2 separate regions of the Homo sapiens genome follow, and region 1 is linked to region 2. Evidence: fine-mapped expression QTL. A gene starts in region 2. The other region holds a variant in brackets. All regions are shown on one strand. Distances are between the middles of the regions. Region 1 overlaps IL6ST (interleukin 6 cytokine family signal transducer). Region 2 holds the start of IL6ST (interleukin 6 cytokine family signal transducer).

Region 1 (8,000 bases), 47 kb before region 2:
TTAGCCAGTGCATTAAGACAATAAAAAGAACTAAAAGCATAAAGATTAGAACAACTATAATTACTCCCAAGAAGCATGATTGTGTATCTAGAAAATCCTAAGGATCCAAAAAGCTACTAATAAATGAATTTATCAAAGTCTCAGTATACATGATGAATATATTTTAAAAAATCAATTGCATTTCTATATACTAAGAATTAGAAAATATTTTTAAACATTTCATTTATAATAACAAAAAATACTTTTGTCATGAATTCAAAAAAAGTTATGCAAGGCCTGTCTACTGAAAACTACAAAACACTGCAAAAGTAAATTAAACAAAACCCAAATAAATAAAGAAATAAACCAGGTTCACGGATTGAAAGACTCAGTAGCGTTAAGACTGCAGTTCTCTCTCGGCCTTAGCGCCATTTTTTTGGAAACCTCGGCGCCATGAGAGCCAAGTGGAGGAAGAAGCGAATGCGCAGGCTGAAGCGCAAAAGAAGAAAGATGAGGCAGAGGTCCAAGTAAACCGCTAGCTTGTTGCACCGTGGAGGCCACAGGAGCAGAAACATGGAATGCCAGACGCTGGGGATGCTGGTACAAGTTGTGGGACTGCATGCTACTGTCTAGAGCTTGTCTCAATGGATCTAGAACTTCATCGCCCTCTGATCGCCGATCACCTCTGAGACCCACCTTGCTCAAAAACAAAATGCCCATGTTGGTCCTCTGCCCTGGACCTGTGACATTCTGGACTATTTCTGTGTTTATTTGTGGCCGAGTGTAACAACCATATAATAAATCACCTCTTCCGCTGTTTTAGCTGAGGAATTAAATCAAAAAAAAAAAAAAAAAAAGACTGCAGTTCTCTCCTATAGATTCAATTAAATCTGACCTATAGATTCAATAAAATCCCAATCAAAACTATAGTTTTAAAAAAGTTGACAAGCTGAATTAAAATGTATATGAAAAGGCAAAGAACCTAGCCAAAATAACTTCTTTAAAAAAAGAACACACTGGAAGAATTCTACCTATTTTCAAAATTTACTATAGAGCTATACTCATCAAGGCAATGTGGTATTGGCATAAGAACGGACATATATACATTTATGAAACAGAAGTGAGAGTATGGAAATAGATACAGACTTATAAAGACAATTGCTTTTGGCAAAGGTACCAAAGCAATTCAATGGGGAAAAGACACTCTTTTCAAAATAAATGACAATGGAATTAGACATCTGAAGGAACAAAATGAACCTTGACCCTGACCTCACACCATGCACAAAAATAACCTGAAATGGATCATAGACTAAGAGCTGAAACTATTGAACTTATGGAAGAAAACATGAGAAAATATTTTGATACTGTGTTTGGCAGGACACAAAACTCAGGAACCACAGAAAAAAAACTGATAAAATGAACTTCATCAAAATAAAAAACTTATGCTTTTTTTTTTTTTTTTTTTTTTTTTTTTCAGACACTCTGTCACCCAGGTTGGAGTGCAGTGATGTGATCTTGGCTCACTGCAACCCATGCCTCCTGGGTTCAAGCAATTCTCCTGCCTCAGCCTCCCGAGTAGCTGGGATTACTGACGTGTGCCACCATGCCCGGCTAAGTTTTTGTATTTTTAGTAGAGATGTTAGCCACTGTGTTAGCCAGGATGGCCTCAATCTCCTGACCTTGTGAGCCGCCCGCCTTGACCTCCCAAAGTGGTGGGATTACAGGCGTAAAACTTCTGCTTTTCTAAAGCCACAGTTAAGACAAAAAAACAAAGCACAGACTGGGACAAAAGTTTGCAAAACGTATTTAACAATGTTGTAACCAGAACATATAAAGCACTCTTATAGCTCAATTATAAACAAAATAACCCAATTTGAAAATGGGTAAAAGATTTCAATAGACACATCACAAAAGAAAATATGTAAGTGACACATGAAAAGATCCATTACTAGTCATCGGAGAAATGAAAATTAAAACGATATAGTACTACACACCCACTAGAATGAAAGAAGTCTGACAGCACTAAGTGTTGGTGATAATATGGAACACTGCTGGAGGCAATCCAAGATGGTGTAGCCACTCTGAAAAAGTTTGGCAGTTTCTTATAAAGTTGAACATATACTTACCATATGACCCAGCACTCTCACTCCTATTATTTGTTCAAGATAAAGGAAAACATATGCTCGCACAGTTTTGTATGTGAATATTCATAGCAACATTATTTATAATAGCTAAAAATTAGAAACAACCTAAACTTCCATAACAGATCAGTCTAAGTTTTGATATATCCATACTACAGAATACTGTTCAGCAATAAAAAGGAAAAAGGTAGGCCAGGTGTGGTGACTCATGCCTGTAATCCCAGCACTTTTGGGAAGCCAAGGTGGGTGGATCACTTGAGGTCCGGAGTTCGAGACCAGCCTGGCCAACATGATGAAACTCCGTCTCAACTGTAAATACAAAAATTAGCTGGGCATGGTGGCAAGTGCCTGTAATCCCAGTTACTCAAGAGGCTGAGGCAGGAGAATCACCTGAACTCAGGAGGTAGAGGTTGCAGTGAGCCAAGATCATGCCACTGTACTCCAGTAAGGGAACAGAGTGAGACTCCATCTCAAAAAAAAAAAAAGGGAGAAGTATATGCAACATCATGGATGAATCTCAAAAATATTATGTAAAAGACATACGCAAAAGACTACACGCTATGTGATTCTATTTATATAAAATTCTTGGCCGTGGCTCACACCTGTAATCCCAGCACTTTGGGAGGCTGAGGGTGGATCCCCTGAGGTCAGGAGTTCGAGACCAGCCTGGCCAACATGGTGATACCCCATCTCTACTAAAAATACAAAAAATTAGCTGGGTGTGGTGGTGGGCGCCTGTAATCCTAGCTACTTTGAAGGCTGAGGCAGGAGTCTGAACCAGGGAGGCAGAGGTTGTAGTGAACTGAGATCGCACCACTGCACTCCATCCTGGGCAACAAGAGTGAAACTCTGTCTCAAAATAGATAGATAAATAAAAATTCTAGAAAAGGCAAAACTACAGTTACAGAAAAGCAGATCAATGACTGCCTGGGGTTGGGCTGAGAAGAAGACAGATTACAAAGGAGAACAAGGAAGCTTTATAAAAGTGATGAAAATGTTCTATATTGTGATTATGGTGGTAGTTATACATCTGTATGTAATTACAAAAATTCATCAAACTGTACACTTAAAATGGATAAATTTTATTGCATGTAAATTCAGCTCAATAAAGCTGGGGGAAAATGCAAAAATATGAATAAAGTTACTTACAGGTCTCGCTTATTAAAGCAGAACAGCACTCCCAGAAGAGTTGTCAATAGGAATGCTAAGCAAACAGGCACGACTATGGCTTCAATTTCTCCTTGAGCTTAAAAAAAAAAAAAAAAAAAAAAAAAGAGGTGTGATGGGAAATAATGTTGACATATGAACTAAGAAGACATAATACAACTTCCCAACCAGACTTACTGTTGAAAAGATAAAATACAATCCTAATTATTTTTCAAGGTCTCTTCAGACTTGATGATTTTTACCCTCTTCTCTCTTTGGTAAATCACATCCCAACCATTTATGTCTTATACATTAACCTGGCCGCATAGCATAAAATATATGTTGGTTGGGGGATAAAAATGATCAGTGTATCGGGTAATCTACTGGGTTAGAGCTTTCAAACATAACCATTTGTAACATTTATGATCTGCATTTGGTAGAATCTTAGTAAAAGTTTATCTCTGAGTTCTAATACTGTATAACAGAGAAATTATGTCAGAACAAATATAAATACTGGGTAAAATGGAAAAGCTATAAAAACATAATTGAACTACACATTTAACCTTCTAAAAAATAAAAATGCAACTCTCAGAAGTTTTAAGAGTTATTTACCATTTTTCAAAAGGAGGATATAGCTGGTACAGGGCTAAGAACTTTAGGAGCTGCTCAATGGGCATGAGGAGTGGCACGAGTAGGAATAAACTAAAAAGTAAACAAGCCTAAGATCCCTAAATACCACACAAATCCTCATCTGCATTTAAAAGAGGACTTGTTCATCAAATTAATCACTAATTGGGATAATTAACATTGGAGATTTTTTAAATGACTGTCCTGATTAATTTTGAATTTTACTTAGTCTTTTACAGTAAAAAATGTATGAAAGTAATATTGCAGCCATATACTATTCACTTAATTTTATCCTTCCACCACACATATCCCTTTGTAAGTAACTAACATCCTATGAAGCTCAGTAGAAATCAAGAAATCAGTTAAATGCTTGAGAATAAACTATGGGTTGGCAAATATTAACTCTTAAATGCTAAGCATCATATATATATATATATGGGTGTATGTATATATATTTATGTGTGTATATATTGATATATGTGTGTATATATATATTGATATGGGTATGTATGTGTGTATATATATATAAAATGCCAAATCTAATTTAGGCAGAAACTTTGCTTTATTAAACATCTGCTTTTATGTTTTCAAGCCTGTGCCTTTGCTCATGCTGCTCTCTAAGATGCCACCTTCTTCCTATTTGTCCACATACTAACTCAAGGCTCAAGTATTTTCTTCTTCATAAAACCTTTGAAGGTAAAATTATCCACTACTGGTATATTTAAATTCCTACTCTATTTACTGTCTACATAGTCCACAGGTTCTCCTTTTTCTGATTTACTTATGCAAAATTTCTTCAACTAAGCTGTAAGGTCCTCGTTGGCAAGACTCA[A/T]GCCATGTGAAGAAGCCATAATGGATCCATGAGACTACAGATAGAGAATTGAAAAAAGGTAGGTTATAAAATAATACTAAGTATAATTTAATTTTAGGAAAAAAATATATACAAAGAAGACACTAAAAGGATACACAAATATGTTATTTTGGGGTAAGGGACTAGGACTAATTTTTCTTCCTCTCTACATTTTACTGTACAGTCTAAATTCCCTATAATGAACACCTATGTAATAAAAAAATTTTAGGCTGAGCATGGTGGCTCATACCTGTAATCCGGCACTCTGGGAGGCTAAGGCAGGAGGACTGAGGCCAGGAGTTCAAAACCAGCCTGGGCAACACAGCGAGATCCCATCTCTACCAAAAAAATTGTTTTAACTAGCCAGGCATGGTGGTGCCTACCAGCAGTCTTAGTTACTTGGGAGGCTGAGGCAGGAGGATTGCTTGAGCCCAGGAATTTGAGGTTGCAGTGAGCTATGACTGCACCACTGCACTCCAGCCTGGGAGACAGAGCAAGACTCTGTCTCAAAAACAAACAAACAAAAAATATACATATGGGCTTTTATGTGTGTGTGTACACACACACATACATATATACAAAGCTCTGTAGAGATGGCTGGTCTCCACAGAAATACATAAAATATACATTTTTAAGTTTATTTTTTAATTTTTCTCAAGATTATGGTATAAAGTTTTATTTTAAATAACATACCTATTAACATACCACCACATGGGACCAACCTTATCCCAGAAACTATATTCATTACTGACCCTAACAGCAAAGCTCAGGAACTTTTATCATTTATTTTATGTAGTCACTCATTCATTTATTCCCTCATTCAGCAAGCATTCAACCAACAAGGCACATGGAATTTACTACTTATCATTAACTAGGCTGGCACTTGGGGGTGGGGGTTACAATTATGGTAAAATAAGGTAATTTTCTATAATGATTCAAAATGTAGGGGGAGCAAGAAAGAATGTTGGTTAAGTTTGCTTTAGGGAAGATACAGAAGAGCCAGATGATGAGGTGAAGACCTCACTGGGGGCAATGCACTAAGAAAAGAGAAGTTAGCATGAGGAGCTTGCAGTTGAAGAAAATGATGATGAAAGGGTACGCACAATCAACAGGACTTGACACTCAGCTTATGTGAGAGAAAAATATACAAATACATTTATTGTAATCACATTTAAATTTATGGCTTTGGCATAGAACGAGGGAGGGAAAATGTATTTGGGAAGGAAAGAGAAGATGGCTAAAGCCATGGACAGAGTTTGAATAGGCAAGTAAGAAAACAGGGTCAAGAGGCCGGGTGCGGTGGCTCATGCCTGTAATCCCAGCACTTTGGGAGGCCGAGGCAGGTGGATCACCTGAGGTCAGGAGGTCGAGACCATCCCAGCCAACATGGTGAAACCCCGTCTCTACAAAAATACAAAAAATTAGCCAGGCATGGTAGTGGGCACCTCTACCCCAGCTACGTGGGAGGCTGAGGTAGGAGAATCACTTGAACCTGGGAGGTGGAGGTTGCAGTGAGCTGAGATCGCACCACTGCACTCCAGCCTGGGTGACAGAGCGAGACTCTGTCTCAAAAAAAAAAAAAAAAAAAAAAAAAGCAAAAAAAGGAGAAGAAGAAGAAAACACCAAAGAACAAGGAGACTCAGGAGACTGTGCTAGCAGAAAAAGTATGGTTAGAAAACCCAAGGGAGGAGGGAGTTTCAAGGATGGAAGGCCAACAGAGTCAAATGCAGAAAAGGCTGGAGGCAGTGGCTTATGTCTATAATCCCAGCACTTTAGGAGGCCAAGGCAGAAGGATCACTTGAGCCCAGGAGTTTGAGACCAGCCATCTCTATAAAAAAAATTAGCTGGATGTGGTGGCACTGGTCCCAGCTACTTGAGAAACTGAGGTAGGAGGATCACTTGAGCCCAGGAGGTCAAGGCTGCAGTGTGCCATGTTCATGCCATTGCACTCCACTGTAGCCTGGGCAACAGAGTAAGACCCTGCCTCCAAAAAAAAAAAGTAGAAAAAAGATGAAAACTAAAAAGCATGCAGTACATATGATGATCAAGAGGTCTTCTGAGTGACACCAGAGAGGTTTCAGTGCAGGGGTGGGGTAGGACCCCTAATTTCAGTATGTTAAATACTGAGTGGGAGGTACGGAAGTGAAGACTGTAAAGTGGACTAGTCCTTCAAGTAATCTCTCAATAAAAGAAAGAAATGAGGATAGAGAAGGAAAGAACACACCCAAACCAGTGAAAAAAATGAACCCACATGGAAAGATACACAAATTCTTTTAGGATTTTTAGTACAGCTGAATATAGTCAGAAGCAGTTAATAAAATACCAAAAAGGTGAGGAATAACACTTTCTATAAAGAAACCACCAACCAAAGCCAGATAATATAAAAATCATCATGAATCCAAAGATGTACTTTTTAACACAATTTTAGCACATAAACTAAGTTCATTTCTAACCTAAGTTTGAGAAAGAAAAAAAACCAAACTTCATTATTTCTTACCAAACTTTGGGGTAGTAAAAGTGAATTCTGGACCATCCTTCCCACCTTCATCTGTGTATGCTGCCATTCGTACCATGTACAATGTGTCACTAGTCAAAGAGGACAATGTATATTCTGTGTGGGAAGAATCCACATTCACAGCTGGAAGAAATAAGAACTGTGCTTCATTCAACTATTCAATGCTTTTGCTTATTTGGCCTATATTTGGCATTGTGAAAGTGTTAAAAAAGAAGCGAAGTATTTTTGTTGGAAAACAACTTTTATAATGTTCTGACATAATTTTATGTTCTAAAGCACAACACAATACTTTTTCAATAAATCCATGAAAGTAACCATAAGGCAAATTCTCAGGTGTCTCCTGAGGCCAATATACTATAAGATGTATAAGAAGAACAGACTTAAATTAGTACTTAAAAGCTTAAGGAAAAAATAACTGATTCTTAATAACTGATACAGTTTTATTACCAGTTTCATTTCCAATGATGGTTCTATAAAATATAGTATAATTTCTGATAAATCCATTCTGAACATCAACAGGAAGTTGGTCCCACTCTAAGACAGCTTCGTTTTTCCCTACTTTTTTTGTCCGAACAGTAGGTCCTTTGGAAGGTGCTGTAACAGAGTGAACACATTTGCTAACTGAAAATCATTTACAATCTAGTAAAATTTCCTTGTCATAAAATCATTTGAACATAATGAGATACATCTTTATTTAAAAGCGATAAAATGTTTCTGTTAATACAAAGCCCTAAACTTTTTT
Region 2 (17,155 bases):
TTTACTTTTGCATATATTAAAACTTCACATTGGTAGCTCCCACCTGAAATCCCATCACTCTGGGAGGCCAAGGCAGGAGGATCACTTAAGCCCAGAAGTTTAAGATCAGGTTGGGCAATATAGTAAGACTCTCGCCTCTACAAAAAATAAAAAGTTAGACAGCTGTGGTGGTGCATGCCTGTTGTCCCAGCTACTCAGGAGGCTGAGGTGAGAGGACTGCTTGAGCCTTGGAGGTCGAGGCTGCAGTGAGTTGTGGTTGCACTACTGCATTCCAGCCTGGGTGACAGAGTGAGACTGGCACATATTTACTCGTGTGGTTACCATTTCTAGAGCTTTTAATTCCTTTGTATAGATCCGTATTTCCATCTGGTATCATTTTCCTTGGGCCTGAAAAACTGCCTTTAACATTTTTTTGTAGTATGGTTAGAGAAAAGTCTAAATAGATTTGAAAACAAAACCAAAGTGTGAATGCTAACAAGTATTTAGCCTAAAATAAGCACAGTTCAAAATGAGAAAAGATACTGCTAATTACTATATTAACAGACCAAAGGAAAATGACAGGGTCATTCCAACAGATGTTTGAAAAGCATCTGATAACATTCAACAACTGTTCATCTAAAACTTAAAAATAACAACAAAGTGTCAGAAAACTAAGACTGAAAGAGACCATCCTTACCTTGGTGAAGGATAACAAAGATGATACAGGGACTCTAGAACCAGATTGCTTGTGTTCAAATTTCAGTCCCTATATTTTAACATCTTAGGCAAGTTTTTAAATAGCCTTCACTTTTACTTCCTTTATCTGTAAACATGGGGTACCACCACCACCTACCCATCTAGGAATGTTATGATGATTAAATAACTCATTATACATAAAGTGCTTAGAATCATTTGGCTCATTGTAACTACTCAATAAAAGGTTAACAGCTGTTATTATTAGTGCAGCTCTTGCTGTTGCTGCCACAGGTACTACTATAAGAAACCTACAAGGCCAGGCATGGTGGCTTACGCCTGTAATCCCAGCACTTTGGGAGGCCGAGGCAGGTGGATCACAAGGTCAGGAGTTTGAGACCAGCCTGGCCAATATGGTGAAACGCTGTCTCTACTAAAAATATGAAAATTAGCTGGTCGTGGTGGTGGGCACCTATAGTCCCAGCTACTTGGGAGGCTGAGGCAGAAGAATTGCTCGAACCCGGGAGGCAGAGGTTGCAGTGAGCCGAGAATGCACCACTGCACTCCAGCCTGGGCGACAGAGTGAGGCTCTGCCTCCAAAAAAAAAAAAAAAAGGAAGAAAGAAACCTATAATAAGCATCTATAGGTTTAAAGGTAAAAATTAGAAGCGTTCCTATTAATGTCAAGATTCAGACAAGATGCTTGAAGTCATCAGTTATTCACCACTGCTCTAAAGGGCTTAAGCAAAAATATAATAAATAAGATCTAAAAATGGAAAATAAATTGTGAATGATATGATCATCTATCAAGAAAGAGTGAGAATCACATGACAAACTATTAGGACTATTGAGAATTTAACACAGTAGTCAAACAAAACATCATCAAAAAATAATAGGACTATTTAGAGTTTAACATAACAGTCAAACAAAACATCATCAAAAAATAGCTCTCCAGCTGGCGCGGTGGCTCACGCCTATAATCCCAGCACTTTGGGAGGCCGAGATAGGCAGATCACCTGAGGTTGGGAGTTCGAGACCAGCCTGACCAACATAGAGAAACCCTGTCTCTAATAACAATACAAAATTAGCCGGGAGTGGTGGCGCACACCTGTAATCTCAGCTACTTGGGAGGCTGAGGCAGGAGAATCACTTGAACCCAGTAGGCGGAGGTTGCAGTGAGCCGGGATGTCGCCACTGCACTCCAGCCCAGGCAACAAGAGCAAAACTCCATCTCCAAAAAAAAAAAAAAAAGCTCTCCTACATACCAGTAATAACTAATTAGAAAATGTAACAGAAGGCTGGGTGCAGTGGCTCACGGCTGTAATCCCAGCACTTTGGGAGGCCGAGGTAGGTAGATTGCTTGAGCCCAGGAGTTCAAGACCAGCCTAAGCAACATGGCAAAACCCCATCTCTATAAAAAATAAAAAAAAAATAAAAAAAAAAATCAGCCGGGCATGGTGGACCATGCCTGTAATCCCAGCTACTCAGGAAGCTGAGGTGGGACAACCACTTGAGCCTGGGCTTATAGAGGCTGCAGCAAGCTAAGAAGCCAAGATCTTGCCATTGTACTCCAGCCTGGGTAACAGTGCGAGGCTCTGTCTCAAAAAAAAAAAAAGTCTCGCAGAAAAAAAAAAAAAGGGCAGTCTAAAGGTAAAGTAAACATAGCACTGATTGGCAAATGAATAGACAACTAAATCAATGGTACAAAACAAAACACACTCAAGTGTATATAAGAATTTAGTATCTGATTTTTTAAAAGGTTGCTCATTTGCTGGGAAAATAAAGGACTATTCAATAAATAGTATTGGGACAACTGGCTCCATAAGCAAAAAAGAAAAAAAAGAACCCCATTTCATCAGACAAAAAGACACACACTCATGCACGTGCACATGCATGTATAAGCATACACTCTCTCTCCAGATTAAGGACCTAAATGCAAAAGCAAAATTATAAGCATATTGAAAAACACATAGAATATGCTTATGACCTTAGGGCCTTTTAAAATTAGACTATTTTAGCCAAATGAAAAGGTTTACAGAGCACTTTGATGAACATCCATGTTCTCACCATTGCTTAAGAAATAAAAGCTCAAGCTTTTATTCAATTTTTATTCCGTTACAAACATAATTGAAGCCATATAAATAGTTCTTGCCTTTAAGAAGTCCAAAGTTTAGAGATGCAGAATATGCACAAAGTGCCACAGGAGCACAGAAAATACCCAATTCAGACAGGGGCCAGGAGCGCCCAGTCTTAAAATAAGGGTAGGGGTTCCTAGATAGAGAAAATAGCACACATATGAACTCTACATCATCTTTGACTCTAATTGTCAAGTGAAGATTACCAATGACAAAATCCCAGAGCATGCCAGTCTAACCAGAGCTATGCTATCTGAAACATAGCTCTGATTAACTCACTTTGCACTAGGGGGTGGGGTTGGGGGTAATACATAAAACAGAACATCCAAACAAAAAAAGACTGAGCAGATCAATCAACCTTAGAGCAAAGGGTGAAGCTGATTGCTTAAAAGAAAATGAAACTTTGGAGGCAGAACATTCCAAATGTAACAGGGCAACAGATTTACAGTGCTGAAAGGAATGAATCTCCTGCTCTGGATATGTATACACACAGCTTTAAAACAATCATCTATATACTATAGCCATTTTTCAGCCAATGTAGCTCTCTTATTCACGATCAATCAGCTAATTTCTTATTAAATCTTACTAAGATACACTAGATAGCCGCAAAGTTTAAAAAAAAAAGAAGAAGAAGAGACTGTAGCCATTTTGACTATATATATCACAAGTGTTTCTGAAGCCTTTCACATTGTTGACCATCCCTGGTTCTTGAATTTCTCCTATATCCTGGTTTCTATGTAACCAGATAATGTAGTTGAATTCTTTCCTTTATCCTCTTTCTTGTCTCCTTTACTGAATTCTCTGCTAGCTTTTATCTCCAGGCTATGAAGGTACCCAAAGATAAAGTACTGGGCATCGACTTTTCTTTTTAAATACCAACTTCTTTGAAGACATGACTTCAACTACTACCTTCAAACAAAATAATTTCAAGAATTTTGGCTTGGATCTTTCTTTTAATTCCAGTTACATTTCATCTTCTTAGATATTCTGTCTCTGAGTCTTATCAATTTAAGAGGTCTAAAAACAATACACCATAGGTACATGCTCATGAACACATATACACATAAATGCCCACCCACTTTTTTTGTTTATTATACTTTAAGTTCTAGGGTACATGTGCACAACATGCAGGTTACATATGATACATGTGCCATGTTGGTGTGCTGCACCCGTTAACTAGTCATTTACATTAGGTATATCTCCTAATGCTATCCCTCCCCCCTCCCCCTACCCCATGACAGGCCCTGGTGTGTGATGTTCTCCACCCTGTGTCCAAGCGTTCTCATTGTTCAATTCTCACCTATGAGTGAGAACATGCGGTGTTTGGTTTTCTGTCCTTGCAACAGTTTGCTCAGAATGATGGTTTCTAGCTTCATCCATGTCCCTACAAAGGACATGAACTCATCCTTTTTTACGGCTGCATAGTATTCCATGGTGTATATGTGCCACATTTTCTTAATCCAGTCTATCATTGATGGACATTTGAATTGGTTCCAAGTCTTTGCTATTGTGAATAGTGCTGCAATAAACATACGTGTGCATGTATGTCTTTATAGCAGCATGATTTATAATCCTTTGGGTATATGCCCAGTAATGGGATGAATGCCCACACACTTTTTAAAAAGTCACAAGGACTTACCATTTTTCCCTATCTACAAACAACTCATCCTCTTCAACTGCCTAAGTCAATGGAGTCCATCGTTTCTCTCATCTATGCAGTACATTTTAGCTTTTCTCAGTTACAAATCTTATCCTGTCTTCTCTCCCATAATATCTTTCCCACCCATCTCTTCTTTTTACTCTCTACCACAAACTAACCTAATTTGGACATTGATCACCTCAATAATTTCAACTGTGTTCCTGCTTCCAGTCTCTTTCCTCCCCACCAAGCATTCTGAACATTGTTGGTGGATCACTCTCTCTACAACACAACTTTAAACCTGTCATTCTTCTCCTCAACAGCTTTTTAAAGGGTGAATAATAATGCCAAATATTCTAACTATTTAAGAACCTAAAATTTTGGCTTTGATGTGCCTATCCAATCTATCTTTTCCAATACTCAAGTTTCTCTATTCTAAAAAAAAAAAAAAATCCTTTCCTCAGACTCCTCCCTCAAGCTACCTTACTACTATACTTCTAGAGAGAACTGCTTGCAATTGCAAGCAATCTGGCTTTTTTACTCCAATAATGCTGAAATTATTCTTGTAGTTTCCAAACTGCAAAGCAAATACTTAAGCTCCTCATTTTGCTTGACCACACCATGCCATTTATAATTCGGTCTTATCTTTCATCACTCCCTACTAACCATCCCTGTAGACTCAGCAAACCACTAGACTTCCTCTAACATACCTTGTTCTTTCAGTCTGTGCTTCTACATATATTATTCCAATGTCTTTCCTGACTCTGCTGTGCACTACAAACTGCTTTTGAAGTATCATCTCTTATATGGAATTTCCCCCCACTTCAAACATCTTTGCTGTCAGTGTACTCTTACATCATTCCCTAACAGGACTCAGAACACTGCACAGTAATTGTTTCACATATCTTGATATCCTCAGAATCTACCATAGTTTGAGGCACCTGGTGGACAATTAAGGGTGGGTTTTTATAGACTTTCTGGTATGATCTTATTTTCTATCTACTCGCTGTCGCTCAAGCGTACTGTATGGAGACGCAGGATGTATCATGGTTAAGAGGTCAGATTCTGAAGCCAGGCTGTCTATGTATGACCTTTAGATCTACCACTTAGCTGGGCAAATTAATTAACCTTCTTGTGCCTGGGTTTCCCTATGTGTAAAAAGAGGATTTTATCCTATTATTATTAGACCTACTTCATAATATTATGAAGATTAAATGCCTTAATATGGGCAAAGTGCTCAAAACAGCAACTGGCACAACATAAGCACTAAATATATTGCCTGTTTTAATTAATAGACCTTAGTTACTGCTGATCCTTTCCACAAGCTAGTCCTATATTATGTTCTATATTCTCCATTCTACATTTTGTCCTCCATTCGCTATTATTAATGGGCTGTCTTCATTTTTCCCTTTATCCAAATCCTACCCAGGTTTCAAGGCCAACTTCTGGTAAATCCTTTGCTCATTCCAATCCTTAAATGCTCACTCCAATCCTTAAACGATCATTCCCTAATTTTAATATCTACAGGATTTTCTGCATCACTCTGCATTTAATTAAAACTGCTTTGCATCCTTGTAGTTTTTTTCGTATAAGTTTGTCAATCCAATTATTATAAACTCTTTGAAGGTCCTGATTACATCTCCTGCACCTTTGTGAGTTCGTACAGCAGGTAGTAATTGCTTAGTATTTGCTGTGTAAAATAATAAAGCACAATAGGAACCTCAACTCTGATCATTCTGCCTTTGCAATCAAAGAAACGGAGAAGCTGTGAGAACATTCCATGCTTCTCTAGGAGCCAAGCTGCAAATGTATTAGGGCCAGAGAATTCTGACTCCCATTAAAATGAGCAGCTCTGAAAGGAGGGAGCGGGGAATCCCTCCCTGCCACTGTAGAGGATTTATGGGTTGCCCTTAAGTTCCCAAACCAAATTGTGGCACTGGGGTTTTTATGAGAAACGTGTCAACATGACAAAATGATTCAGAGCACAGGATTTGGAGTCACACAGATCTAGTTTTCAGCGAGACTCCTGTTTCCTTCTCTATAAAGGGGACATTTTAACACCTACTTCACATGTATTTAACTTTCGCCCTAACACTGAACTGAAGTGCAAAGCCTTGGAAACAAATTTAAATAAATTGAAAATACTGCAATTCACAAATAAGAGTGAGAACAACATTTTTAGTTACGTAAGACTATATTATATTAAATTAGGTGGCAGCAGTATTTATAATAATCTAAATTGCCTGTGAGAAAATTAAACTGGTATTGTCAATACATACTTAAAATAAGAAAAAAATCCCACTACAGTCTGTCCTTTTTGACACTTTCTCCTTCCTGTAATTTTTTTCTTTCACTCAAGATTAAAAACAAACGTTCAAGATTATCCCTAAAGAGAAATAGTTGGAAAGCACAATTTAATAGCAAGTTGGTTCTATAAATGTAATATTTCAGTTCATAGTTCAAAAATACTTCCAAATAGGAATTAACATGAATTTAAGAAATTAACATAATGGCACACAGCTAAACTGATGATCTGAGTCCGTAATTTCAAATTAAGAGTTGTTCCAACTTGAAGCTGGCAGTCATACACAGTTTAAAGGGTTTGTTTACAGCACTGTCAAAAGCAAATACCACAATCTTTCAGAAAATTCACCCTGGCATTCTAATAACTAGTTATTTTAAGGCAGTATAATTGTTGAAATACTTCACAAACTAAGCCAAAATGCGTTTCCTTCTGAAGGCAAAAAAAAAAAAAAAAAAAAAAGGTGACGTCTTATTTTTAACCTGTGATTTTTTTTTTTTTTCAGTTTCGGATTATGAAATAAAATGCTGTTCATCCACTGAAGAACAGACCCTTGCTTCCTGCACTATCTTCAAAAGTTTAGGTCGGAGGAGGTAAAATTTTAAAAACTGATTTGTTCTCCTTGGGATACAGTGAGATGTGGAATTCGTTAGGAATGATAATTATTAATAGAAAAGATCAAAAGAAGGAAAGAAACGTTAATAGTGTTTATAAGCATTGTGAACTTTCAACAAAGCTGAAACGTTACGATTTCAAGATGAAAAAACGGCTTTGGGGAAGGGAAATCCACCTCGAGAATGAAGACAAGTGCGGAGCGAATAGAATTTCAGGGGAGATGAAAAGGGGATTGGGAAAAACGTGGGATCTGGTAACAAAAAGGGGGGTTTGTTCTTGAAGGGCGTTCTGCGGGGCGGGCGTTAAGAGGGGTGCGTGCGTGCGCCTGGGTGAAGTTTGTACTCAGGGCTGCGATAATCGAGGTGACAAAGTTGTGGAAGTAGAATTCGGAGGTCCGGGAGCAGGAAGGGGAAGGAATGTGGGGATTTCCAGGCTGGGCTGACAAGTTCCGGGCGCTGCTCTCAGGGGGAAGGGAGGTCTCCTCGAGTGCCAGATAGCCCGTCCGAAACCACCGACACTCTAACTCCAGCTACGCGACCCAGCACCCGGCCCCTCCTCACCTCAGGCCGCGCCGCCTCGACCCTCCGCGTCTCCACAGCGCACGAACCCCTTGGCGCCAGGCTGGGCCAGACCCGTCGGCCTGGCAGGCGCGGCCCCCGGTTCAGCTGCGCCGGGGCGGCCCAGCGCGACTCCGCGGGCCTTTTGGCTGCTCGCCCCGGCTCCGGAACACTGTCAGATCCTTCTCCGCAGAGGTAGCGCGCCACCCCAGTCCCGCGGCGGGGCGGGGCGCTCCCCAATCCCGCCCAGCTGCGCCCCCGGCCGGCCAACGCTGCGCCCCGCCCCCTACCGGGACCTAGGCGCTGATTGGCCCCTGAGAGACCCTTTGCGCCCAGGCATTGGTCCAGTGGCCGCCTGTCGACGAGGGGGCGGGACTCCGAGGGGTAGCGATTCCCGTAACGCGGCTCTTCGCGTCCCGGATTCCGGTGGCTGCGTCCGCGTCGCCTCTCCCAGACTAGATCGAAGGGTTCCCCCCACCTCCCCTCTGTGGGCGGAAAGAGCGGAATGTTCCATTTTTCTGTGGAATAACGGGGTCATGAACTGGAGCCCGGGTGCTGCCCGCCGCCCGCTGCCCCCGCCCTCCCTTCTCGCCAGGGCGCCTGCGGCCTCTCTTCGCGGCCTTCCCCGAGGGACTCAGAGCCGCGAGGGACCGCCTAGCTCCCTTGGGGATGGGGAAGGCGTGGGAGCCTCTTGGGGAAAGTGAAGAGCTCGGTGGCCGTGACTCCGCACGAGACTGCGGCAGATTGTGGCGGCGGCTTCTCTCCAAGACTTACGTAAACGAGCCTTGCCACAGTACTTTTTTAAATTAGTAAATGAGTTTGGGTGCGATTGATCAGTGAGCCCCAGAGGTGGTGGCCCACCAAGCGACTAGTGTTTCTTTGCGGTTTGTACCTCCCCGTTTATGATAAAAAATACCGGGTAAAAACCTATTCATCCCGCCTCCGCCCCCCCCTTTCCCTCAGAAAATGGACCTCAAGGCTCATGATGTTTGTTTCTCCCCAAAGGAAGATGAGAATCTTGAGTTAAAAGATAAGGCATGTGCGTGCGTGCGTGTGGGGTGTGTGCGTGGGTGTCTGTAAAAGTAAACACCCAAAGGTAGAGGTTTTTGTGGAAGAATGAGAGGATATAGGAAGGAAATAATGGTTTAATGAACTTAAATTATATCCATAAATTAACAATTATAAAGTTCTTCATTATATTGAGGATTCAGATAGAGTAAAACATAGATCGAATTTTAATCTCTTAGTTGTTGATCAGATAATTTATAAAAGGGCAAAGTGGGCCTGCTAACGGAGTCGCAGGCAAAGTAGATGGTGCTGCAGCTGATGTGTTCAGCTCTTGCTCCTCCCTGTCATCCTATATCTAACCTATAGATTGTGACCAGATTCTGTTCTAGCTTTGCCATTTAGAGGGGTGTTTATTTTAAAACAAATTTTTATAAAAATTTGTTAAATTGAAAATTTTGTATAGATCCAGGAAACTTGATTTTTTTGTTGTTGTTCACAGTCTCACTCTGTCACCCAGGCTGGAGTGCAGTGGCTGGATCATGCTCACCGCACGTTCAAATTCCTGGGCTCTAGCGATCCTCCCACCTCAACCTCCCAAGTATCTCAGACTACAGGTGCCCCTACAATACCTGGCCAATTTTTAAAATTTTTGGAGAGACAAGATTTTGGTATGCTGACCCGGCTGGTCTTGAACTGCTGGCAACAAACGATCCTCCGGCCTTAGTGGCCTCCCAAAGTGCTGAGATAACAGGTGTGATGCAAAGATGTATTTAGGGGAGATGTATAGTGGTTAAATGTACCCTCTGGTTCTAGATTGCCTAGGTTTAAATGCTGATGCCTCTATTTCTCATCTCTGTGACCTTGGGCAAGTCTTTTCAAATTTCTTCATCTGCAAAATGAGAATAACAATACCAACCTAACAGGATTGTTGCAAGGATTAAATGAGTTAAAATACATACAGTGTTTGGCACATAGTAGGTGCTCTGTAAGTATCAGCTATAATCATTATTGAATGTCTACTCGGTCAACACTTCTGAAATATTTTAGTATCACAACATATATTAAAAATGATGATATTTTGCTGGACGGGGAAGGGCAGGTACACAGAAGTGGATTGATATGTCACAACACACCAGCCTGCCTTGGCACCATTAGGAAAACAAATGACTGAGTTAGTGCTTTTATGGGTGTCTTTTTATTGGCTCAGCTCAGGTCCTGCTCCCAAGAAACTCACATTTTATGGGAGTAGTTAAAGTCTGAGGCCAAAAGGATGAATCAATATTGGAGAAGTATTTTTCAGAGCAACAGGACGGAAGACCTCTGCTGTGCTGGAATTACATGACTTTGCAGATACCTCTGTAGAGTATTGGCCTTGAAATTACGAATTTCAGATTAAGGATTTGTTACTAGAAAGCCTTGTCAAAATGCAAAGGTAAGTAGGGGAAAGTAGTATATTAATGGAGAACTCTCCATTTGTGTCCTGTGACCATTTGAGATTTTAGATATGTCAAGAGCAGGCCGGGTGCAGTGGCTCACACCTGTAATCCCAGCATTTTGGGAGGCTGAGGCAGGCGGATCACTTGAGGCCAGGAATTCAAGACCAGCCTGGTGAAACCCCAACTCTATTAAAAATACAAAGATTAGCCAGGCATGGTGGTGGGTGCCTGTAATCCCAGTTACTTGGGAGGCTGAGGCACGAGAATCACTTGAACCCAGGAGGCAGAGGTTGCAGTGAGCTGAGATCCTGCCACTGCACTCCAGCCTGGGTGACAGAGCAAAACTCCTTCTCAAAAAAAAAAAAAAAAAAAAAAAGAGATTGAGGAAACTGTACAGTGAGAAAGTAACATGAAGGCACCAAAATTACAATTACTTGGGAGTAAGTGAGCAAAGCTTAGGAAATTGTGCCATGGAACAAAGGTGATAAATGTCAAAGACAAACTTTGCCTGCATTTCTAATTCCCTAAATCTGGTGCTGACTAGGATATCCCTTTACTTCCTTGTCTGTGCCCAGTTATGTTTCTGAAATTCTGTGTCAGCCCTGGAATTATCCTCATGTTCTGTATCACCTTAATGATTTCAGCATCCATGTTCATGACTCATTAGCACTCTGACCTCACAATTTCTCATCGTTTTCTTTTCCAATCATCTTCAACTTCACTCTGTATCAGCAACCCACAGATGGAGCCACACCTTCAACCTAGTCATCAATGAAATTACTTCCCCTCCAAAATGCTGGATTGTGAGTTTCCCTCTCTGTACCTACAGCCACCTACCCCCATCTATCTCTATTCTGTGGTCATTCCCATTGAATCTGTAATTTGTCCTCAATGTGACAGCCTGACAGCCAGTCTTTCTTCTCATAGTTTATCAGCTGTTTCCTATCATTTTTTATCTTACTTACCAGTAAGAACCCCCTTTTTTTTTTTGAGACGGAGTTTTGCTGTTGTTGTCCAGGCTGGGGTGCAATGGCACGATCTTGGCTCACCGCAACCTCCGCCTCCCTGGTTCAAGTGATTCTCCTGCCTCAGCCTCCCAAGTAGCTGAGATTACAGGTGCTCACCACCATGCCTGGCTAATTTTTTGTACTTTTAGTACAGACGGGGTTTCACCAAGTTGGCCAGGCTGATCTCAACTCCTAAAAGTGATGGGATTACAGGGGTGAGCCACCGCCCCCCAAGAACCCTTTTATCAACCATTTTAACTGCACTATTCTCTTCAGTTCCCTTGACCTTCAGCTATGTTTACCTTATCAGGCTATTTCCTAACTATTTCCTTTTTCCTTGAGCTATCAGCCCCACCGTAACATTTATTCTTAGTACAGAACCTTGTTTTACTCCCTTAAAATCAAGACCATCATTTGTGAGCATCCTTGACTTTTCTCCAACTTAGGAAGCAAATAGATATTTATCCTCTTTCTCTTTTCCCCACTCAGAGGAAGAAAGGCCCCTTTACTTTTAAAAGGTTAATTTCTCCTCCTCTGTTCTTGGTACTACTTTAAGTCTAGTCCCCTAGTTTTATATTTTTCATTATTAACACTAAATGACTTTGAAATGTTTAAAAATTAGATATTAACTCAGTGGTGAGTTGAGGACAGCCTCTCTGCCTGTGTTAAAACCTTTGTAACCTGATAGCACCTAATTCACCAAAATTAAAAATAATTAAATGTCTAAAAATGAAGAATGTTAAGCTACATTGAAATTCACTTAACAAAATGAGGTGAGAATGAAAAATGAACTTAAATTTCCAAACTAGAAGACAAGAGAAATTCATTTCATAGCAACAAAACTCAAAACCATTATGACTGCTATTTCAAAAAATGTTTTGAAGAATGTATATTCAGAAAAATCAACATACCATAAGAGTACAGCCTGAAAATTTTTGACAAAATGAACACATTCATGTTTATCATCTATATCAAGAAACAGAAGGCCTGGCACGGTGGCTCACACCAGTAATCCCAGCACTTCCGGAGGCCAAGGCGGGCAGATCACGAGGTCAGGAGTTCGAGACCAGCCTGGCCAACGTGGTGAAACCTCATCTCTACTAAAAATACAAAAATTAGCTGGGCTTGGTGGTGCATTCCTGTAATCCCAGCTACTGGGGAGGCTGAGGCAGGAGAATGGCTTGAACCTAGGAGGCGGAGGTTGTAGTGAGCCAAGATTGTAGTGAGCCAAGGTTGTATAGTGAGCCACTACACTCCAGCCTGGGTGACAGAGCAAGACTTGGTCTCAAAAAGAAAAAAAAAAGAAAGAAATAGAAAATAGTCTGGGTGCGGTGGCTCATACCTGTAATCCCAGCACTTTGGGAGGCCAGAGGCTAAAGCGGGTAGGTCACAAGGTCAAAAGTTTGAGACTATCCTGGCCAACGTGGTGAAACCCAGTCTCTACTAAAAATACAAAAATTAGCCAGGCGTGGTGGCACACGCCTGTAGTCTCAGCCACTCGGGAGGTTGAGATATGAGAATCGCTTGAACCCGGGAGGCAGAGGTTGCAGTGAGCTGAGATCACGCCACTGCACTCCAGCCTGGTGACAAAGTGAGACTCTGTCTTAAAAAAAAAAAGAAACAGAAAATGACCAGTACCCCAAAAGGGCCCTCCTCCCATCCAGTTATTGGAAGGTCATAACTGACCACTATTCTAATGTCATAGCGTTGTACCCAAGCGAGTTAGAGAAAACGACACACTTTGAGACGAATTAAGAGTCCTTTATTAGCCAGCGACCGAGAGATAGCTAACGCTCACAATTCTCTCTGCCCCGAAGAAGGGGCTAGATTTTCTTTTATACTTTGGTTTAGAAAGGGGAGGGGGGTCTAGTTAAAACAATTTTACAGAAATAAAGTAGGCAAAAAGTTAAAAGGATAAATGGTTACAGGAAAGTAAACAGTTCCAGGTGCAGGGGCTTTAAGACTATTACAAGATGATAGACTCAGGGCTTTGGGTGTTATCAATCAGACGAATTCCTGGGAATTGCGGATATAGCTTGCCACAGTATCTTATCAGTTAATTGCATTCTTGGATGTGCTGGGAGTCAGCTTGCACAAGTTAAGTCCTTGAGGAAGGGGCTGCCAGTGAAAGAGTCAAGATGGAGTCTGTCTGGCTCTCTTAGCTAAGGGAGAGTCAATTCAGGTGGAAACAAGCCTAAAAACAGGGTTAGTAAAAACAAGGTTGGGCATTACAATAGTTTTATGCTGTCTTTTTAAACTTGAAAAGTGTACAGAAAAATTTTTTCACATCAGATGGGTAATGTGCCAACGTCGTAACAAGGTTTGCGGGAGGCACATCTCACACATGCACATGAAAACCCAATCATCAGGCTTATAAACTACAAAAGAATCTGAAACTTCTTAGGCTTAATATTAGGTTGGTGCAAAAGTAATTTCTGCCATTACTTTTAATGGTGAAAACCACAATTTTACACCAACGTAATATATTTACTTATTTTATTTTAATGAATATACTAAACCAAGAGAGTTTAAAATGAAATAAGTACTGCTCTGTGGCCGGGCGTAGTGGCTCACGCCTGTAATCCCAGCACTTTGGGAGGCCGAGACGGGCGGATCACAAGGTCAGGAGATCGAGACCATCCTGGCTAACACGGTGAAACCCCATCTCTACTAAAAAATACAAAAAATTAGCTGGGCGTGGTGGTGGGCGCCTGTAGTCCCAGCTACTTGGGAGGCTGAAGCAGGAGAATGGTGTGAACCCGGGAGGTGGAGCTTGCAGTGAGCCGAGATTGCACCACTGCACTCCAGCCTGGGTGATAGAGCAAGACTCTGTCTCAAAAAAAAAAAAGAAAGAAATAAGCACTGCTCTGTAAAGGTAAACACAGAGGAAGGGATCTAGCTCAGAGATCTCCATACTGTGGACTTCCAGGGATAACCCTGGTCAAATAGCCATGGGCTGGTCAATGATTTTGAGTTACTCTTTGAGAGGGAAGCTTGGCTTCAGAGAAGGAAAGGCCAGTGCAAGACATGTGAGCAGCAGTTAGGTGCATCCTATTCCTAGACACATACATAGGATAAGGAAGTCAGGTATTGGGACTGTAGCTTTGGAATGGACTATACTTGCTTCAGAATATTATCAGGGGGAGTTTGAGAAGCAAGGGCTTTCCTTCGTTGATTCTCCTTTCACCAGTCTTCCTGGAAAGAATATTCTGCAGTTACAAAATAGGTTCCTTGGCTGCCAGTCTGATACTTGTGCTAAAACCAAATAGATGAAAAAGTATCAACATGAATTTTAAAAAATATATTGTGTGAGCTTGTATAGCTAAGAATTCCCAGCCCCCTACATAGGATCTGAAGAAAGATCTAGTACTAATTGTATTAAATAATGGTTTAGGCAAATGTGTATCTGTCTCCTTAAGAGAGGAAGGCAGTCCCTACTGTAAAGTAAAAATGAAATGGATATACTTCCTGAGAGGGCTGGAATTTTCTGATAATTGTCCCCTCTGATTTTTCACAGGATTTACGGAATGGCCATCTTCCATAATTAACAAATAAATAAATGAAATTTAATGTCAGGGTCAAATGAAACTGGAAACAAAGCTTATCTGGTGATATATCAAATTATGAGAGTCATTATTTGGATGTAAGGATATATGACAGATAGACTCTTAGGAGAAATGCTATGACCTCCTGCTTCTTGGTATTCCTTGTGTGATTTCCTCCTCTTGAGTGTGAAGGCATGTATGTCATTGAGTTATATAAGATAGTGCCCATCTTGCTAGTGTCTCTCTCTCTCTTGTGGCTCTGAAAAATCAAGCTGCCTGCCATGTTTGAGCTTTGATATGGAAAGACCCACATGTTAAGGAACTGAGGGCAGACTCTGCCAACAGCTAGCTTTGAAACTGAATCTCCCGGCCAGGCACAGTGGCTCATGCCTTTAATCCCAGCACTTTGGGAGGCCAAGGTGGGTGGATCACAAGGTCAGGAGTTCAAGACCAGCCTGGCCAAGATGGTGAAACCCCATCTCTACTAAAAATACAAAAATTAGCTGGGTGTGGTGGCAGGCACCTGTAATCCCAGCTACCCAGGAGGCTGAGGGAGAGAATTTCTTGAACCCAGGAGGCAGAGGTTGCAGTGAGCTGAGATCACGCCACTGCACTCCAGCCTGGGTGGCAGAGCGAGACTCCATCTCAAAAAAAAAAAAAAAAGAGAGAAAGAAACCAAATCTCTCAGTCCTACAACCTCAAGGAACTGAATTTTGCCAACAAAAGCAGATCCTTCCCCAGTCAAGCCTCAGATGAGACAGCATCCTCAGCTAACAACTTGTTTGCAGCCTCATGAGAACTGAAGCAGAGAACCCAGCTAAACTGTGCCTAGACTCCTGACCACAGAAACTGAGATAATAAATGTGTGTTGTTTTAAGCTGCCAAGTATGTGATAATTTGTTATGTAGTGGAGAACTAATACAACAGGGAAAAGTTAAAAGCTATTCACATAAATATTTATAATGGATACTATTTCTACACATTTAAATCAAGCTTCTCTTACGTTCATAAGAAGATACGAATCTGGAGAAGGAAATTATATCAAGCAGAACGCTGCTCTGGTGTTGTGAAGACGGGATCCCACCATTCTAATGTATTCAATTTATTTATTCAATAAGTTTTGAGCATCAACTATGTTCCAGGCACTGAGATATTAATCTAAGGAAGACACACGTGTTGTCCTCATTGAGGAGCTCAAAAGTCTAATACATAAACCAACAATCATACAAAAATCATAGCCATGTTACAGTGCTATGAGGAAGATGTTAAGAGAATATTCTGGAAGTACTCATACATAAATACTTCAGAAACTGGGCATTATAAGAAGTCAGTTGCCTCTCTCTACTTTCAGTTCTACATTTTTATACCTTGTAGTGGATTTAAAATGGCCACAAATTCTTCAATACTCTTCTATGGAGAGATTTGAGGGCTATTTCCCTTCATCTTGAATTTAGGCAGGCTTGTTCAGGGTCTGGCTTTTAAGAGGAGCTTTCACCTTGGTCTGTGGAAGTCCTGAGTCACTGTGTACAAAGTCCATCTACCTTATTACACCATCTGGAGAGAGCTGAGACTACAGGGAGAGGGGGAGTGGCCCGGCTGATCCCAGTCTTCCTAGTGACCCTGCCCAGGAACTTGGCATGTGAGTAAAGCCATCTTGGAACCTCCATACCAGACCAGCCACGAGATGAATAATACTAACTGATCCCAGTCAATGCCACATAGAGCAGAAGAACTGCCTAACTGAATTCTTTCCAAACTGCTGACTCAAAAATTTGTATGGTATAATAAAATGTTTGTTTTAAGTCACTGTTTTGTTAGGAGTAATAAGCAACCAGAATAAAATTCTAATCTTTATCATGTACCGTGCTGAAAATCTGACCATCTCACTCTCCTTAAAACTCCGTCAATCCCTTCCCATTACCCAAATCCCTCTTGTATGTCATAGAAGTCCCTCATTACGTGACCTCTACCTACTTCTCTGGTCTTGTCTCCTAACATGGCCTCCAACTCCAGGCTCTCATATTACCTATTTGCTAATGGTTCCTGGGCCAGCATCCAACATACTGTTCCCTCCTTCCATGCCAAGAAGAGACAGCTTATTCTGTTTCCTTGGCCGGTCATTGCCTTCTTCATTTGCTTTGCCTAACTTGCTCACCGTGTAAAAATATTCATCTAAGTAGTTACTTCCTCTCAGAAGTCTGCTCTAGGCCATGAGAAACTCACAGCCAAAAATGCAAATG

Evidence for each region. PIP is the estimated chance that this variant, and not a neighbour inherited with it, causes the effect. A credible set is the group of variants that fine-mapping cannot tell apart.
Region 1: its variant is the best candidate, but not a certain one, in a credible set for the expression of IL6ST in whole blood (TOPMed, PIP 0.56).

What each region holds. Positions count from the first base shown.
Region 1 is chr5:55,944,224-55,952,223 of GRCh38, forward strand. IL6ST (interleukin 6 cytokine family signal transducer) reads right to left here. Exons shown (of 17, transcript NM_002184.4): 13 at 7,706-7,852; 14 at 7,241-7,381; 15 at 3,270-3,366. Among named protein-coding and RNA genes, the nearest start is that of IL6ST, 47 kb to the right of the region's middle. The variant A/T (reference allele first, on the strand shown) is at 4,726.
Region 2 is chr5:55,986,862-56,004,016 of GRCh38, forward strand. It overlaps IL6ST (interleukin 6 cytokine family signal transducer), which reads right to left and starts at 8,102. Exons shown (of 17, transcript NM_002184.4): 1 at 7,923-8,102. IL6ST-DT (IL6ST divergent transcript) reads left to right here and starts at 8,306. Exons shown (of 2, transcript NR_102755.1): 1 at 8,306-8,693; 2 at 14,888-16,788. It overlaps LOC124901197 (small nucleolar RNA U13), which reads right to left and starts at 13,760; the gene lies at 13,657-13,760. RefSeq lists cis regulatory regions at 6,870-9,188, 7,882-8,555, a silencer at 7,833-8,312 and enhancers at 8,144-8,655, 16,300-16,594.